Regions from separate parts of the Homo sapiens genome. Here region 1 is linked to region 2. Evidence: fine-mapped expression QTL. Tissue or cell type: whole blood. Region 2 holds a variant in brackets; the other region holds the start of a gene. All regions are shown on one strand. Distances are from middle to middle.

Evidence for each region. PIP is the estimated chance that this variant, and not a neighbour inherited with it, causes the effect.
Region 1: SUSD6 starts here. The variant in region 2 is fine-mapped to the expression of SUSD6 in whole blood (TOPMed, PIP above 0.99).

The regions. Positions count from the first base shown.
Region 1 is chr14:69,607,721-69,615,806 of GRCh38, forward strand. SUSD6 (sushi domain containing 6) reads left to right here and starts at 3,876. Exons shown (of 6, transcript NM_014734.4): 1 at 3,876-4,108. RefSeq lists a silencer at 3,625-4,394 and enhancers at 7,760-7,809, 8,080-8,086.
Region 2 is chr14:69,727,932-69,736,035 of GRCh38, forward strand. No RefSeq gene overlaps it. Among named protein-coding and RNA genes, the nearest start is that of SRSF5, 35 kb to the right of the region's middle. The variant G/A (reference allele first, on the strand shown) is at 4,733.

The DNA of each region.
Region 1 (8,086 bases), 120 kb before region 2:
AAAAATACAAAAATTAGCTGGGTGTGGGGGTACGCACCTATAGTCCCAGCTACTCGGGAGACTGAGACAGGAGAATCCCCTGAACCTGGGAGGCGGAGGTTGCAGTGAGCTCAGATCATGCCACTGCACTCCAGCCTGGGCGACAGAGCAAGACTCCGTCAAAAAAAAAAAAAAAAAAAAGATTTATGCTGGAAATCTGGAAGGACCCAGGAATATTAGCTCAAAGAGCCATCTTAAGTCCTTTTAGAATAAGGCAGGGTCTGAATTGAAAAGTGAAAATAAAAAATTAGCTCTGGTTTAAAATTGATTGTTAGGTGGAAGAAACAAAAAATCAATTATAAAGGCCACATATTTGTATGATTCTATTTATAGAGAGTGCTCAGAATAGGCAAATCTATAGAGACAGAAAGTAGATTGTTGGTTGCCTAGGGAGGGAGGCAGGGAAGGTGGTAGGGAGGGAGGAAATGGTAGTGACTGCTGATGGGTATGGGAGTTTTTTTTAGGGTCATGAAAATGTTCTAAAATATTGTACGACTCTGTAAATATACTAAAAACCATTGAATTGTTCACTCTAAATGTACAATTGTACATGTGCAAATTTGTACAATTTGTAAAGTTATACAAAATAAATACAAATTTAAACTGTGAATTGCTGGTATGTGAATATCTCAATAAAGCTGTTAATTAATTAATTAATTTATTTAAGACACAGTCTCACTCTGTCGCCCAGGCTGGAGTGCAGTGGCGCAATCTCAGCTCATTGCAGCCTCTGCCTCCCAGGTTCAAGCAATTCTTGTGACTAGCCTCCCACATAGCTGGGATTACAGGCGTGCACCACCACGCCAGGCTAATTTTTATATTTTTAGTAGAGACGAGGTTTTGCCATGTTGGCCAGGCTGGTCTTGAACTTCTGGCCTCAAATGATCAGCCTGCCTCAGCTTCCCAAAATGCTGGGGTTACAGGTGTGAGAAAGCTGTTAAATTAAAAAAAAATCTTAAAAATTTTAAAGAATTTTATTTAAAAAAATCTATGATCCCTCCCACTTGAGAATGTCTAAGTCTAAATTATTCTTAACCTTCATCTTGTGAGATCTTTTCAATGGCAGAAAGATAATATTCACCCCAGGCCAGGAAGTACCATTCCATTTTGCGGGTGAGAAGAGCAAGGCCTATACGTAGAATGTAACAGGGGCTTTTCGTCAGCTGTACTGAAGAGGCCAGTGGAACTTCAGATAGGAGGGGATGAGAAGACAGGAAAGGCTGGTGAGCTGACATTTATAAAGGGAGGAGACTTGACCCTGATTCTGGCAATTCAAAGCAGAAGGAAATGGAAGCTAATCCCAGCTGTAACCCAGCTACTCGGGAGACTGAGGCAGGAGAATCCCCTGAACCCGGGAGGCGGAGGTTGCAGTGAGCTCAGATCATGCCACTGCACTCCAGCCTGGGCGACAGAGCAAGACTCCGTCAAAATAAATAAATAAATAATTAAATATTTAAAATGTTTAAAAATTTTAATTTAATACTTTTCTGTGGCACTTTGGGGCTCAACCAAAGTGCCACAGAAAAGTAGAAGCAGCAGCCTTGGGAAGATTCTGAAGGGTAAGTAGAGAAGGCCTTCAAGATTGAGGAAACAGCATGGGCACCTGGTTTGTGACAGGAATGGCTTGTTAGAGACCAGCAGGTGGTATGGGGAGGCTGGAGTGGGGTGTGTGGAGGGATGGAGAGCATTTGGGCCGGACTGTGGACAGCACAGGATACTACAGTCCTTGCTGATGACTTTGAGTTCATTCTGTGGACCCTGAAGGTCTGGGAGAGGATTTTTTTTTTTTGAGACAGTCTCACTCTGTCACCCAGGCTGGAATGCAATGGCACGATCTCGGCTCACTGCAACCTCTGCTTCCTGAGTTCAAGCAATTCTCCTGCCTCAGGCTCCTGAATAGCTAGGATTACAGGCATGTGCCACCACGCCTGGCTAATTTTTGTATTTTTAGTAGAGAAGGGGTTTCGCCATGTTGTCCAGGCTGGTCTCAAACTCCTGACTTCGTGATCTGCCTGCCTTAGCCTCCCAAAGTGCTGGGATTACAGGCGTGAGCTACCGCGCCCGACTGAGGATTTTTGGGTAGTGATGGACAGATCTGCATAGGGTCTCACAAGGGATTTTATAAGGTGGCAGTTCTTGTATGAAGTTACTGAGCCTCTTAATGGCCAAACTGACTTCAGTGCACAGCCAGGGGCTCAGTTACTTTGGCAGTTGATCTGACCTGAACCATCCATGCCTGCTTTCTTCCCTTTCCTTTCTTTCTTTTTCTCCTTCCTCCATTCATCTTCTCCAATTCTTCCTCCATCCCTTTCCCTTGCTTCCTTCCCCCTTGTCCCCTCCCTGAGCCTTGGGTCTGCCTGGCATGTTCCTGCTGCCCACACTGATTTGGTTGTGCTCTGAGGCAGACCCAGGTAGTTCTGAATTGTGCTTTTCAATCTTCTAGTGGTCTGGGCAGTGTGGCCCCAAATGAGCAGGAAGGGAGGGGTGCCCATCTTCTCTAATGAGTCTGGACCCAAGAAGGCAAGGAAGAAAGAAGGCAGAACAAGGATAGACTTATGAAAAAGGCATTATAGCAACGAGCCACAGGTTGCTGTGGGGCCCAGAAGGGAAGGGTTCTTTTGGGGATGGGTCTGTGTGCATGGGGAGGAGCATCCTGTTTATTTGGTTCAAGCTACTTCACAAGGACATGCCCTGTTAATTCACAGTGCTTTTCCCGAAAGCCTACTAGAACTAGGCCTGGTGAGAGGCCCTGAGAAGGTGTATCCTTTTGTCCAAGAGCATCTGGGAGAAGAGGCCTGCCTGACCCAAGCTGCAGCAAAGACACAAGTCTGTAGGTCCAGATGTGGACTCTACCACTGATTTACAAGTAGGAGTTCCTTAACACTTATGGAGGACCTCTGAGACCGACACGGTGCAAGGCCCTGGGGTACAAAGATAAAAAGCCAGAGTCCTCCCCATCAAGGCGCCACGGGCCCTGTAAACACATAAACCGAGGACACACTGCATGAGAGATCACCAATAAACGATGTAGCCATACAGTGCACAAACTGCTCACTCAGTATGTGCTAGAAAATAGCCCCAGAAGGCAAGGCTCAAGAGGGGAAATACAGTTAGGAATGTGGCAGGCTTCTAGCCCGGGCTCTGCCAGTCCTGGCTCTGAACTGCGGTTTTCTCAACCTTGAGATCCCTTGTGTGCTTTTAGTATGCTGAAGGATCACTCACTTCAGAATGCTAGTGAAAATACAGATTCCCAAGTCCGACCCCACTGAATCACAATGGCTGGAGGTCATTCGGGGCCCCGAATCTGCATTTTCACCCCCACCCACCCCCCGGGCAGCTTTAATGTTGGCAGGCTAGGAACCACAGTTCGGATTACTGCTTAACAGGGAGATAATAACCTGCTTCAGACGAGCTAGGTCAGACGAGCAATTCAAGAGCTAACAAGGCAACATGCGCCAAAAGCCTTGTAAACCTCAGGGCAGTACAATTCTTTGCAAATAATAGTAATTCAATCATGCAAATAATAATAATAGTAAACGAACTGGAGAGCGCACTGGAAACGCCGCATAGTCCAGCTGAGTCGGTGCCACCGCCCCATCCACTCCAGCGCAGAGGGACTGTCTCTTTAAGGACCCCCCACCTCCCCAACCGCGTCGCTTCTCCCTTGGGTACCTGGCCCGGCCGGCGGCGCGTGCGTGCAGGGCCTCCCGGCGGGGCGGTCGCGGCGGCGCGACGCCGGCGCCGTTGCGTGCGCGCCTGGCCCTGCCCCTTTCCCGCCCCTTCCCCGCCCCCTCCCCTCCGCGGGGCCTCCCCCGCCCGCGCGGTACAGCTGGGTCAGTGACGCGGGCGCTGCAGCCGTCGCTACCGCCGCGTTCTATTCTCCGAAGCCGGCGACCGCCCCACCTCCTCCCTCCCTCCCGCCCGCTTCCTCTGCCCACAGCGCCGGCCAGAGCGAGCTAGACAAGGGCACGCGGGGCCTCGCCTAGACCCGAGAAGACTGCGGGCGCGCGCAAGCGGCGGCGTGGAAGCTGTGAGCGCCCCCATCCCGGAGGTCTCCGCCGGCTCCCGGGTGAGTTGTCACCGCGGCCCGGGGGCGGCGGGGCCGGCATTGTGCCATCGACGCGCTCGGCCGGCTGTCAGGGGCGCGGGACCAGCGCGCACCGCCCAGGAGTGACGCTGGCCGGAGCCCGGGCCGGCTTCGGCGGCTCCCCGCGCTTCTCTGCGCCGGCCCGCTGTCACCCGGCCGCGAGCCGCGCCGCTGGGAGCCCCGCGCTGGCGTGGCGCGGCCAGCCGGCCAGCAGTGGGGGCTGCGCGGCCGGGGGGACCGGCGGCTGGTTTGCGGCCGGGAACTTGGTGACCCGCGGTCCGGGGCGCGCCGTCCCGCGTCGCTGCCCGGGCAGCACCGGAAGAGCCAGACGCCGTGCCGATGGGTGCAGAGGAGGTAGGCAGAGGCCCTCTGTGCCACTGTCATTACTGCCCTCAGCCCAGCAAAGCTGCGGGGCTTGCGCTGGGGCAGGGCTGGCTTAGAGAAGGTGGATTTCCTGAGGAAATCTCAGAGCCCGCCTGTGCGCACCGCGGCATTCGGGAGCCCCCGCGCCTCGGCTGCTCTTTAATCTCAAAAACTTCTCTTATTAACCAGGCTAAACTCCCCGAAACCAGCTATTTTCTTTCAAAAAGTAGGCACGTACATACAGACTTTCCTTTTTTCGCTTGGTTTTGAGACCCCAGCTATGAGTGTGGATCTGACTCTCCCTCATGGGAGTCGTGGCTGGGGAGCTGCTGAAGTGGAGAAAAGTTACCCTGGACGAATTTAGGAGCAGGAGGGGGAGGTGGTTATGGGGACAGCAAGACCCAGGAGCAAAGAGGCGTCAAAATAAAGTCTTGGGCTGGTTAAAGGGAAGTTGGCGTCTGGGCAAGGAGGCCTAAAGCTGTTGTTCCCACAGAATTTTCTTTCAGTGGCAGGCGACATGCTGGGCTTTGTTGCTCTCGCTAACTGGGCTCCTGTGTGCTCTTCCAGAGGTGCAGTAAGATTACTCAGTTCAATTAGGCCTAGGGATTTACTCCCTTTTTTGATCTACAGAGATGGGAAGTATGTCTTTCCTTCACAGTAGTTAATTCATTTCTTGCTGTTTTCGTTCCTCTGGTGTAAAAACATACATAGGAGTTACGCACACACACCTTTTCTGTTTTGGGAATTCCACACCCAAACTGTCACCATCTAGTGGAGGCTAGTAGAGACATGTGCTTGGCACTGACTTCTGAGTTCTCTGGGTTTTGTGTTTTTAGCTAGAAGCATATTCAACCAGAAATTAAAATTTTCCTGGAGTTGGGGGAGGTATGTCTACATCTCAGGAAAGAAGGTATTTAAGCAGCAATAATATGGAAAGGTTCTTGAGGACTTACTGAGTACCAACCTTTGTGCTAAGGGCTTTACTTTTTTGAACTCATTTAATAACAGACTTTTGATGTAGATATTATTATCCCCATTCTTCTAGTTGAGACCCAAACCAAACAAGTTAAATAACTCGCCCATGTCACATAGGTATCTCATGGTGGAGCCCACAGTCTGAACTACTAGATTATACTGCTAGTTTCTGGTTTGTTTACCTTTTGATAAAATTGAACCTGGAGTCTTTCTAAAACCTTCTGAAAGCACTGCTGCTTCAGGCTGTTTCTCAGATCATGAGCATTCTAAACTCTTTCTCCTGGGTACACACTTACGGTATGTTTGCATAAGATTCATTTGTTCATTCTTTCATTCAGTACTCCCAAGTAGTTATGTGATACCGAATGTATGCCAGGCACTGTGCTAGGTATTGCAGGTACTGCATTGAATAAGTCAGAATCCAGCTCTCATGGACTCACAGCCTTTAAGTCCATTTGTTTTGGTTTATGTTGTTAGCTTTCATTGCTGGCCATTTGCTGCTGAAGGAACTTCTGCCCAGCGAGTTAAACAGAGGACAGTATTGGTATGAGTCCTGATAGATAGGACTTCCTGTCTGCAGAGTAATTTTTTGGATACTGTAGTAGAAATGGCATATGAAACAAATCCTCACTTACACCTAGATAGAGACAGGTGCCAGGGTGCTCAGTGTTTAAACCCTGAGAGCAAACCCACTGTCAAATGGGCAAGTTTGACTTCTTTCGCTGAAGCCTGCCTTCTGAAAGCCCAGAATTTGGTGAGATAGAAGAGAAAGAAGGGTAGAATGAGGTGTTACAGATACAGGCTGGCAGATAAAGAGACCTCAGCACTTTGTCTGTTTTCCTGGTCAGTCTCTGAGGTGTGGTGATTGAACTTGTGTTCTTTTTTATTTTTTATTTTTTTTGAGATGGAGTCTCGCTCTGTCACCCGGGCTGGAGTGCAGTGGCACGATCTCGGCTCACTGCAACCTTCACCTCCCAGGTTCAAACGATTCTCTGCCTCAGCCTCCTGAGCAGCTGGGACTACAGGTGCGTGTCATCACGCCTGGCTAATTTTTGTATTTTTAGTAGAGACTTGGTTTTACCATGTTGGCTAGGCTGGTCTCGAACGCCTGACCTCAGGTGATCTGCCCGTCTTGGCCTCCCAAAGTGTTGGGATTACGGGCGTGAGCCACCGTGCCCGGCCTGAACTTGTGTTCTTATGTAATGTTGCATCTCTCAGTAGGGGATGTCCTCCTTTGCTCTTTTGGTGGGGCAGCAATTCCTGCAGCAGCCTTCCCTCTACATGCACACACACACCCCTTCCAAAAGGTAATAATTCACCTGGTTTCTTTAAAGTTAGAACTTCTTTCAAGTTTATTGCTACTAAGCATTGTTTCACTCCCTCCACACTTGTCCATTTCCCACATAAAAACTTGGCTTTTGCTTCAAATATTTTCTTCTGCCCTTTTTTCATATCCTTAGCTCTTCTGACAACCAAGTTACTACTGGTATCATTTGTAGGCTGGGAGAAATACAGCATCTTTAAAAAAAAATAGTGAGGTACATACTCTTCCTCATTTCAGTACCAAACAAGTGAACTGTGGAGAATGAAGCAGAACCACTTGCCAGCAGAGAGGGAAGGCCAGAGGGCACACGTGGTTGTCTTTCCCCTCTAGTTCCCCATTTATTAAGAGACAATTCACACTTGCAGGCCCGAATGTCAGCAGATCCATTGGGCCCAGGTTGTGTAATTGCCATACATGAAGTGAGTTATTAAGCTCCTGAAATGACATGCTATCTCCTAGTTGAAGCTGACAAGCAGGATTTATTTTCCCTCTTCTTTCTGTCTGGACACTATGGAAGTCTTGTTAGAGGGTGTTCGCTCAAGCAGTGGGAGAAAGATCAGAAGGAGCCAATAGAGGAGGGAGCCCCATGTCTTGTCTTCTTTTCAACTTTGAGAGCAAACATTGCTTTGTTGCAGACTTGAATGTTGAGGATTAGGACATTTGGTTAAATGTAAGCTTTGGGACAAATGCAAAACTAGGGGAAATAGAGACTCTTTCCCCAGGTTTCTCACGAGCTCCATAGTACTCAGGAACCTTTGGGTGGACTGTCCTTGCGCGTCAAGATCTGTTCACTCCACCCCTGGCTTGGATTCAAGGCAACAGCCATTGTGTGTCCCTTGGATGAGTGTAAGTTTGTGTTTCTGTGTAAGAACCTTTCATCTTAAAAAGTACAAGTTCTGGGGAAAGGTGCCTCTTACAAGGCTTAGGTTTTCGCAGCAGAGCCTGTTAGGCACCTGTGTTCTTCTTGGGCTGATGTGTCTGCGATGGTGTCCTTTTTCTTCCCTTTTTAGTTTTTTTTGGCCTGGAAACCAGCAGGGTGCCTCCATTTGCTCTCTCATCCTCTGGTTCTTACTTGAGTGTGGAAGTCGCTCCACTGGTGGACCTTGCAGTGGCACTGAGCTGGGTCACTTCAGCCGTGAAAGGCCAACTGTACTACTGTCAAGGCTTGGGACAGTTAAGCGTCCGTGAAGGTACTGGATACAGCGACAGCAGGAAGTGCAGCAGTGAGAACTGAAACTAATTTCACAGACTGTGGTGTTGCCTGTGATGTAGTCTCCCTCCCTGGCTCTTCTATCTCA
Region 2 (8,104 bases):
GGGCAGGAGAGAGGAAAGAAGGGCTGCAGGAATGATGCAGGGAGACCACGCAGCGGGGAAGGGGGTGCAGAGCAGTTGGCTAGTGCTTTACAGAGCAAGTGCTGTTGGAGCTGGGTCTTGAACCAATAGTAGTTTGGTTGCCAGGCAGAAGAGATGGGCCAGGGGGAGAGGCCTTCTAGGCAGAGCTAACAGGTGGGCAATGCCCAGTTGTGAGTGGGGCCGTGAGGTTGGGGAGTTTGGGAGCCAGGTGTGGTTGGAAGGGAGGGTGTGGGGGAAAGGTGCTGTCAAATGGTCCAGACCTGGAGACTGTGGCTCTATGGTGAAGGGCTTCGAGAGCCATTCTCTTGGTTTGAAGTATCTTGTAGGTGGGCAACCGAGAAGGTTTTAAAGCATGTGCTAGGTGTCATAATTACCAGGGGTGGAGACGGTGCAACAGGCAGAGACCCATGAAACAGAGGTCCATAGAATATCCTACCTTATAAATAAAAATTATTATTATTTTTTGAGACAGTGTAGAACTGTGATCTGATCTGATACGTTCTGTCCTTTAATATCTGAGTTAAATATGTTATTGGCTCCCAATCCAGACCCCAAGAGAGGATTCTTGGATCTCCCGCAAGAAAGAATTCAGGGCCTGTCCACAGAGTAAAGTGAAAGCAAGTTTATGAAGAACGTAAAGGAATAAAAGAACGACTACTGTATAGACAGAGCAGTGGCATGGGCTGCTCGACTGAGTATATTTATAGTTATTTCTTGATTATATGCCAAACAAGGGGTGGATTATTCATTAGATTTCCAGGAAAGGGGTGGGAATTCCTGGAACTGAGGGTTCCTCTTCCTTTTACACCATATAGGGTAACTTCTGGACATTGCCATCGCATTTGTAAATGGTCATGGTGTTAGTGGGAGTGTCTTTTAACAAGGCAATGCATTATAATTAATGTATAATGAGCAATGAGGATGACCAGAGGTCACCTTCGTCATCATCTTGGTTTTGGTGGGTTTTATCCGGCTTCTTCTTCTTCTTTTTTTTTTTTTTGAGATGGAGTTTCGCTCTTGTTGCCCAGGCTGGAGTGCAATGGCCCAATCTCGGCTCACTGCAACCTCTGCCTCCCGGGTTCAAGCGATTCTCCTGCCTCAGCCTCCTGAGTAGCTGGTTTAGCTGGCTTCTTTACTGCATCCTGTCTTATCAGTGTGGTTTTTGTGACCTATATCTTGTGACCTCCTGTCTCATCCTGTGACTTAGAATGCCTAACCATCTGGGGATGCAGTCCAGTAGGTCTCAGCCTTATTTTACCCAGCCCCTATTCAAGATGGAGTCATTCTGGTTTGAACGCCTCTGACAAATATGTTTATCTTTCTTATAGTTATGAATACATTTGGATCTACCATTTTATTTTGTATGAGCTCTTTATTTTCTTCTTTTTACTTTTTCCTATCTTCTTTTGGATTAAAAATGTTATCAATTTTCTACAATTTCTATTTTTCCATTGGACGAAATCCGTAAGATTGTATTTTGATTCTTTTGGAAGTCAATGTTGGGACTCAGAAACTGGTATCCCAATGGTTCTTTGACATGCTGGACTAAAGAAGCAGGCTCATGATCTCTTTGACCTTCCCCCAACTCCTGTTTCTGAATTCTTTGTTTCTCTCAAAGCACAGAATGAGGCTATTTTCTGAAGTTTCCAGGTGCTTGGGAGTTGATAAAGTTTAAGAAAAAATTTTTAATGAAGTTCTCTTATCTACCTAGAAACCAGACCCCGAAATAGGACCACAATTGCCTTCCGTCCTCTCCCTGAAATCTCATTATCTCAGAAAAGCAAGACTGAAGAATGTAACCACACCTGGATGAACTTTTTCCCAAGACATTTATTTATTTAATTTATTTTTTGAGACAAGGTCTCACTCTGTCACCCAGGCTGGAGTAAAGTGGCCAAACATGGCTCATGCAGCCTCAACCTCCCAGGCTCAAGTGAGCCTCCTGCCTCAGCTTCCTGAGTAGCTGGGAATATAAGAGTGTGCCACCATGCCTAATTTTTGATATTTCTTGGAGACGGCGTCTCCCCATGTTGCCCAGGCTATTCTTGAACTCCTGGACTCACGCAATCCTCTCACCTCAACCTCCCAAAGTGCTGGGATTACAGGCTTGAGCCACTACGCCCAGCTTTTTTCACAAGATGATGTCTGCCTCTTGTGCGCATCCAAATTCCAAAGAGAATTATTTACAAGTTAATTTCTGTTTTCCAGGTCCATTCATTTCCCCTGAAAATCATTTATTCTTACACTCCGCACTTCCCTCTCCCTAATGAAGAGGGTATTTAAGTGTCAGTCCTTTGGCCCTGTACTTGAGTTTTCATATTTGTAGACTCCCATGCATGTGTTTTCTGTTGTTATTCTGTGTTTCATTATAGGAGTGTCTCCTGTGATTCTTTTTTTTTTTTTTTTTTTTTGAGACTGAGTTTCACTCTTGTTGCTCAGGCTGGAGTGCAATGGCGCGATCTCGGCTCACTGCAACCTCCGCCTCCCTGGTTCAAGTGATTCTCCTGCCTCAGCCTCCCAAGTAGCTGGGATTACAGGCATGCGCCACCATGCCCGGCTAATTTTGTATTTTTAGTAGAGACGAGGTTTCTCCATGTTGGTCAGGCTGGTCTCCAACTCCCATCTTCAGGTGATCCACCCGCCTCAGCCTCCCAAAGTGCTGGGATTACAGGCATGAGCCACTGCGCCCGGCCTTCTGTGATTCTTTATAATGAGGAGAAAAGAAATCATCCCCTTTCCGCCCCTACATCACCCAGCTTTTTCTTAAAAAAATTGAAGTTATTCATTATTTCTCTCCTCCTCCAAAATTTATAGGCATTGGCCTGTCTGTCCTGAAATTTTAAAAAATTTGACTTTTGTTATAAATTTCTAATTATATTGCATTATTATCAAATAATATAGTCTGAATAATAAGGATCCTTTGGAATTTGTAAAGGCTTCCATTATAGCTTACCAAATTGTTTTAAATGTTGAATATCTCAAAAAGAATGCATATTCTTTATCCCCAAGTATAAAGTGCTATATAGAGCTAATAGCTCAATCTTATTAAGTATATTGCCCCTATTTTTAACACCTCTGCTTGACCATAGAAGAGTCTGGTAATATTTCAAACTACAATTGTTGACTTACCTATTTCTCCCTGAAGTTTGTCAGTTGTTGCTTGCCCTATGCTCCTATCATAAACATGTGCCAAATGGATTTTTCATGTCTTTCTTTCGTTTTCATGCCAAGCTCTGTTCTTATTTGCTCCATTTGAATGGTTTGATGCTCAGGCACATGGTCCTCTTCCAAATTAAAATCAAAATGCTGGTGAAGGTTAGAAACAGATTTGGGTTCATAAAATGGTCAGGCACTGAAAAGGGATCTGGTAGTGAAGGACGGCCCTTGTTTCAGAATACGGGGAGAGCTTTCTGACATCTGTGGCCTCGTCCACTCACTGGAGTAGATAAAAACTGCAGATACTGCAACTCTTTCACCAGGTGGTGCAGTAAGCACACAGTTTGGAGTTCAGTCTACCCAACTACCTGGACAAGAACACAAGATTCCAGTAAGAAAAAGAAGGAATGGGGGGTTTTCAATGAAAGATGAGAGGTCCATAGCCAATACCCTGTGTGTGTGTGTGTGTGTGTGTGTGTGTGTGTGTGTGTGTGTGTGTACCAGGACCAGAACCTTATAACAGCAGAATGTGAGATCTGAACTGGATCCTCTGACTTGCTTGTTTTTTTCTTTCTTTTTTTTTTTTTTTTAAGACAGAGTCTCCCTCTGTTGCCCAGGCTGGAGTGCCATGGTGCAATCTTGGCTCACCGTAACCTCTGCCTCCTGGGTTCAAGCAATTCTTCTGCCTCAGCCTCCCGAGTACCTGGGATTACAGGTGCCCGCCACCACGCCCAGCTAATTTTTTGTATTTTTAGTAGAGACAGAGTTTCACCACATTGGCCAGGTTGGTCTTGAACTCCCGACCTCGTGATCTGGCCGCCTTGGCCTCCCAAAGTGCTGGGATTACTGGCGTGAGCCACCGCGTCCAGCCTGACTTGCTTGTTTTTACAGAGATAATCAATCCAGAGTGATGAAACAGACAAATGCTTTGGTCCATCCATCCATCCATCTATCCATCCATCCACCCATCCATCCATCCATCCACCCATCCATCCATCCATCCATCCATCCATCCATCCATCCATCCACCCATCCATCCATCCATCCATCCACCCATCCATCCATCCATCCATCCAGTATTTACTGAATGTCACCAAGGACTTGCCAAGGTCACATTGCTGTTTAGTAGCAGAAGTTAGTTGAGAACTAGATCACCTAGAGAGAAAATGCAAAATCTTAGAATATCTCCAGATTTTATTATTTACTTTTGGAAAGAGATTTTGGCATTCATTTAAATATCAATACATTTAATATTTTATTTTATTTATATTTATTTATTTATTTTAATTTTTATTTATTTTGTGAGACAGAGTCTTGCTCTGTCTCCCAGGCTGGAGTGCAATGGTGCGATCTTGGCTCACTGCAACCTCCGTCTCCTGGGTTCAAGTGATTCTCCTACCTCAGCCTCCTGAGTAGCTGAGATTACAGGAACCTGCCACCATGCCTGGCTAATTTTTGTATTTTTAGTAGAGACGGGGTTTCACCATGTTGGCCAGGCGGGTCTTGAACTCCTGACTTTAGGTGATCGCACACCTCA[G/A]CCTCCTAAAGTGCTCAGATTACAGGCATGAACCACCATGCCTGGCTTATTTTATTTCATTTTTTGAGATGGAGTCTCACTTTGTTGCCCAGGCTGGAGTGCAGTGGTGTGATCTTGGCTCACTGCAACCTCCACCTCAAGTGATTCTCCTGCCTCAGCCTTCTGAGTAGCTGGGATTACAGGCATGCACCACCATGCCCCACTAATTTTTGTATTTTTAGTAGAGACAGCGTTTCACCATGTTGGCCAGGCTGGTCCTGAACTCCTGACCTTGAGTGATCCAGCTGCCTCAAGCTCCCAAAGTGCTGGGATTACAGGCATAAGCCACAGTGCCCAGCCCTGTTTAATATTTTAGAAATTAACGGCAGCCAAAACAAATAAGAAAGCATACTGGGGTGTGTGGAGAGGGAAGGGGTGTGATGGGGGCGGGACTGGAAGCCCTTGGATCCTACTCGTTCTCCAAGGAAGCAGCTAACAGGTAGCACCTAAAGAGGCACAAACAAACAGATGTAGTGTGTGCAACTCAATTGGCTCCTGCATTAGGGGGAAAAGCAATTCTTGAAGGCATTTTTTGGGAAATTTGAATATGACAATAGGGGAAATTTGAATATGCATATGATATGATGGGATGTTAAAGAATCGTTGTTAATTTTCTTGCGTGTGATAATGGTGTTGTGGTTATGTAGGAGAGTGTCTTTATATTTGGGAGACACACGCTAAAGTGTTGAGGGGTGAAGTGTCATGATAATGCGACTGACTGTTAAACTGTTTAGCCAAACACACACGTGCACGCACACATACATACACAGTCATTAAAGCTAACGTGCCAAATGGGTAACAATTGCTGAATCTAAGTGGAGCGTGTTTATTGTACTGTTCTTTCAGCTCTTCAGGGTGTTGGGAAATGTTCATAGTTGAAAGCTGGATGGAGGCATGCAGCTCTTAGGAGATCCATACATACAGGTCCAGTTGAGAACCGTGTGCTGGGTATTTACAGGGGGTGACACTCCCTGAAGGTTAGAGAGAGGTGGCCTCTGACCCCTTCCTGCGTACAGGTGTGAGAGGCAGAGCACCTCACTGTAGTCTGGATCTGCCCACAATGCCCTGTGGGCACTGGGTAGATAAGAGGGGAGGGCAACAGGTTTCTCTTAGGAAAGGAACTGAAGGGGCCAGTCTGAAAAAGTGATCTCTAGAGTGTGACTTGCACATAGTAGATGCTTAATAAATCTGCCAGTATTGTCTCAACAGATGCTTATGGATTTTATTGACATTAGATGGTAAAACTGGAAACATAAGTGCCTGTTTATTAGTCTCTTCTACTACACCGGTGGATTCCTTTGAGGAGTTGGTCTGACAGTCCCCTGAGAAGAGGCAGTGGCTGGCTGTCAGTGCTGTCTTGGAAACCCCTTTCTCCCTTAGTTGCCTAGAAAAACCTCCATAAGGGGCAGTGCATCTCAACTGACCCCACTCTACCCTGGGATGAGGATGGCCAAAGCAGGTGGCCAGGGGAGCATGAAGGACCAAGAAGTGCTTGGTATACAGTAGGCACTCAGTGGCTATCCCCTGGGTGGTAACCAATCATTTGCTGAGTCCCTATTATGTGCCGGGCATGGTAGTCCTTTGCATCCTCCTCATGAACCTCATTATTCTGGTTTTACGAACATGTGAGAAGAAAGGGAACCAAGGATGGTAGGAAGTTCCTCCTGGAGCTGCAGAAAGAGAAAGAGGCAGAGAGAGGGCAAGGGCACAGGGGAAGGGGCAGCGGTTTGGGGAGCGAGTCAGACCAGCCTTCCTCGCAGCAGAAACGTACAAGAAGGAAAAGGTGTTGAGTCTGCCAAAGAGGAGGGGAAGCAATGACCTCTGTGTGAAGGTGGACAAGCAGAAGATGCAGATGCCTGGGTAAAGTCAACTCCAGCCTCTTTCTAGTCATGAGGTTTTGACCTGAGCTGGGTCTACTTAGGTCAATCCCCATGGCTGACCTAGGACAAAGCAGGCACTAGCCTTGAAGTTGCAAGACCTGGGCTGATCCCCATAGGCCTTGATAGCTGCATGACTTGTGGGTCAGTAGACAATCAGAGTGCACTGTCTGCAGGGAATTCACAAACAGTAACAAAACTGACTAAAAGTCACCCTGCCTTTTAGCAACACCTTGTGCTGGCAATTCTGAACAATGGCAGTGATAAAGGACTTCTCCCTGGAAGAACTCCATTGTCAGGCTAAGTTCTAAGCAATTGCTGCCATTACCACTGAATTTTAATAAAATATAGGTAAGCTTCAGACTAGCTCATTTTTATTAGTTATCTTTTATTTATTTATTTATTTGAGACGGAGTCTTGCTCTGTCTCCCAGGCTGGAGTGTAGTGGCATGCTCTTGGCTCACTGCAATCTCCACCCTCTGGGTTCGAGCAATTCTCGTGTCTCAGCCACTTGAGTAGCTGAGACTACAGGCACATGCCATCATGCCTGGCTAATTTTTGTATTTTTTGTAGAAATGGGGGGTCTCACCATGTTGCCAAGGCTGGTCTCAAACTCCTGGGCTCAAGCAGTCTTCCTGCCTTTGTCTCCCTACTTTGTTTTCCTACTTTGCCTCCCAAAGTGCTGGGATTACAGGTGTGAACCACCAGGCCTGGCTGTTTTCCCCTCTTTTGTAAAAAAACAAAACAAAACAAAAAAATTAATGTAATTAACAAATATTTAACTCATTATTTATTTCTGTATTGTAATATTTATTTTATGTTTTATTTTGAATTTTGCTTGGAAGGTTGTTTTTTCTTTTTAGATGGAGTTTTGCTCTTGTCGCCCAGGCTGGAGTGCAATGGCATGATCTTGGCTCACTGCAACCTCCACTTCCTAGGTTCAAGCAATTCTCCTGCCTCAGCCTCCCAAGTGGCTGGGATTACAGGCATGCACCACCATGCCCAGCTAATTTTGTATTTTTAGTAGAGACGGAGTTTCACCATGTTGGCCAGGCTGGTCTCAAACTCCTGACCTCAGGTGATCTGCCAGTCTTGGCCTCCCAAAGTGCTAGGATTACTGCGCCCAGCCTTGGATGGTTGTTTATACAAAGTTTAATACAAGAAAAACTTCACTGCCTATTTATTTTCTGGTCTTTTTTTTTTTTCTTTTGAGACAGAGTCTTGCTCTGTTGCCCAGGCTGGAATGCAGTTGAACAATTATACCTCACTGCAGTTTCAACCTCCTGGTCTCAAGTGATCCTTCCACCTCAGCCTCCTGAGTAGGTGGGACTACAGGTGCCACCACCATGCCTGGCTAATTTTTTTCTATTTTTTATAGAGACAAGGGGTCTCATGTTGCCCAGACTGGTCTCAAACTACTGGCCTCAAGTGATCTGCCCACCTTGGCCTCCCAAAG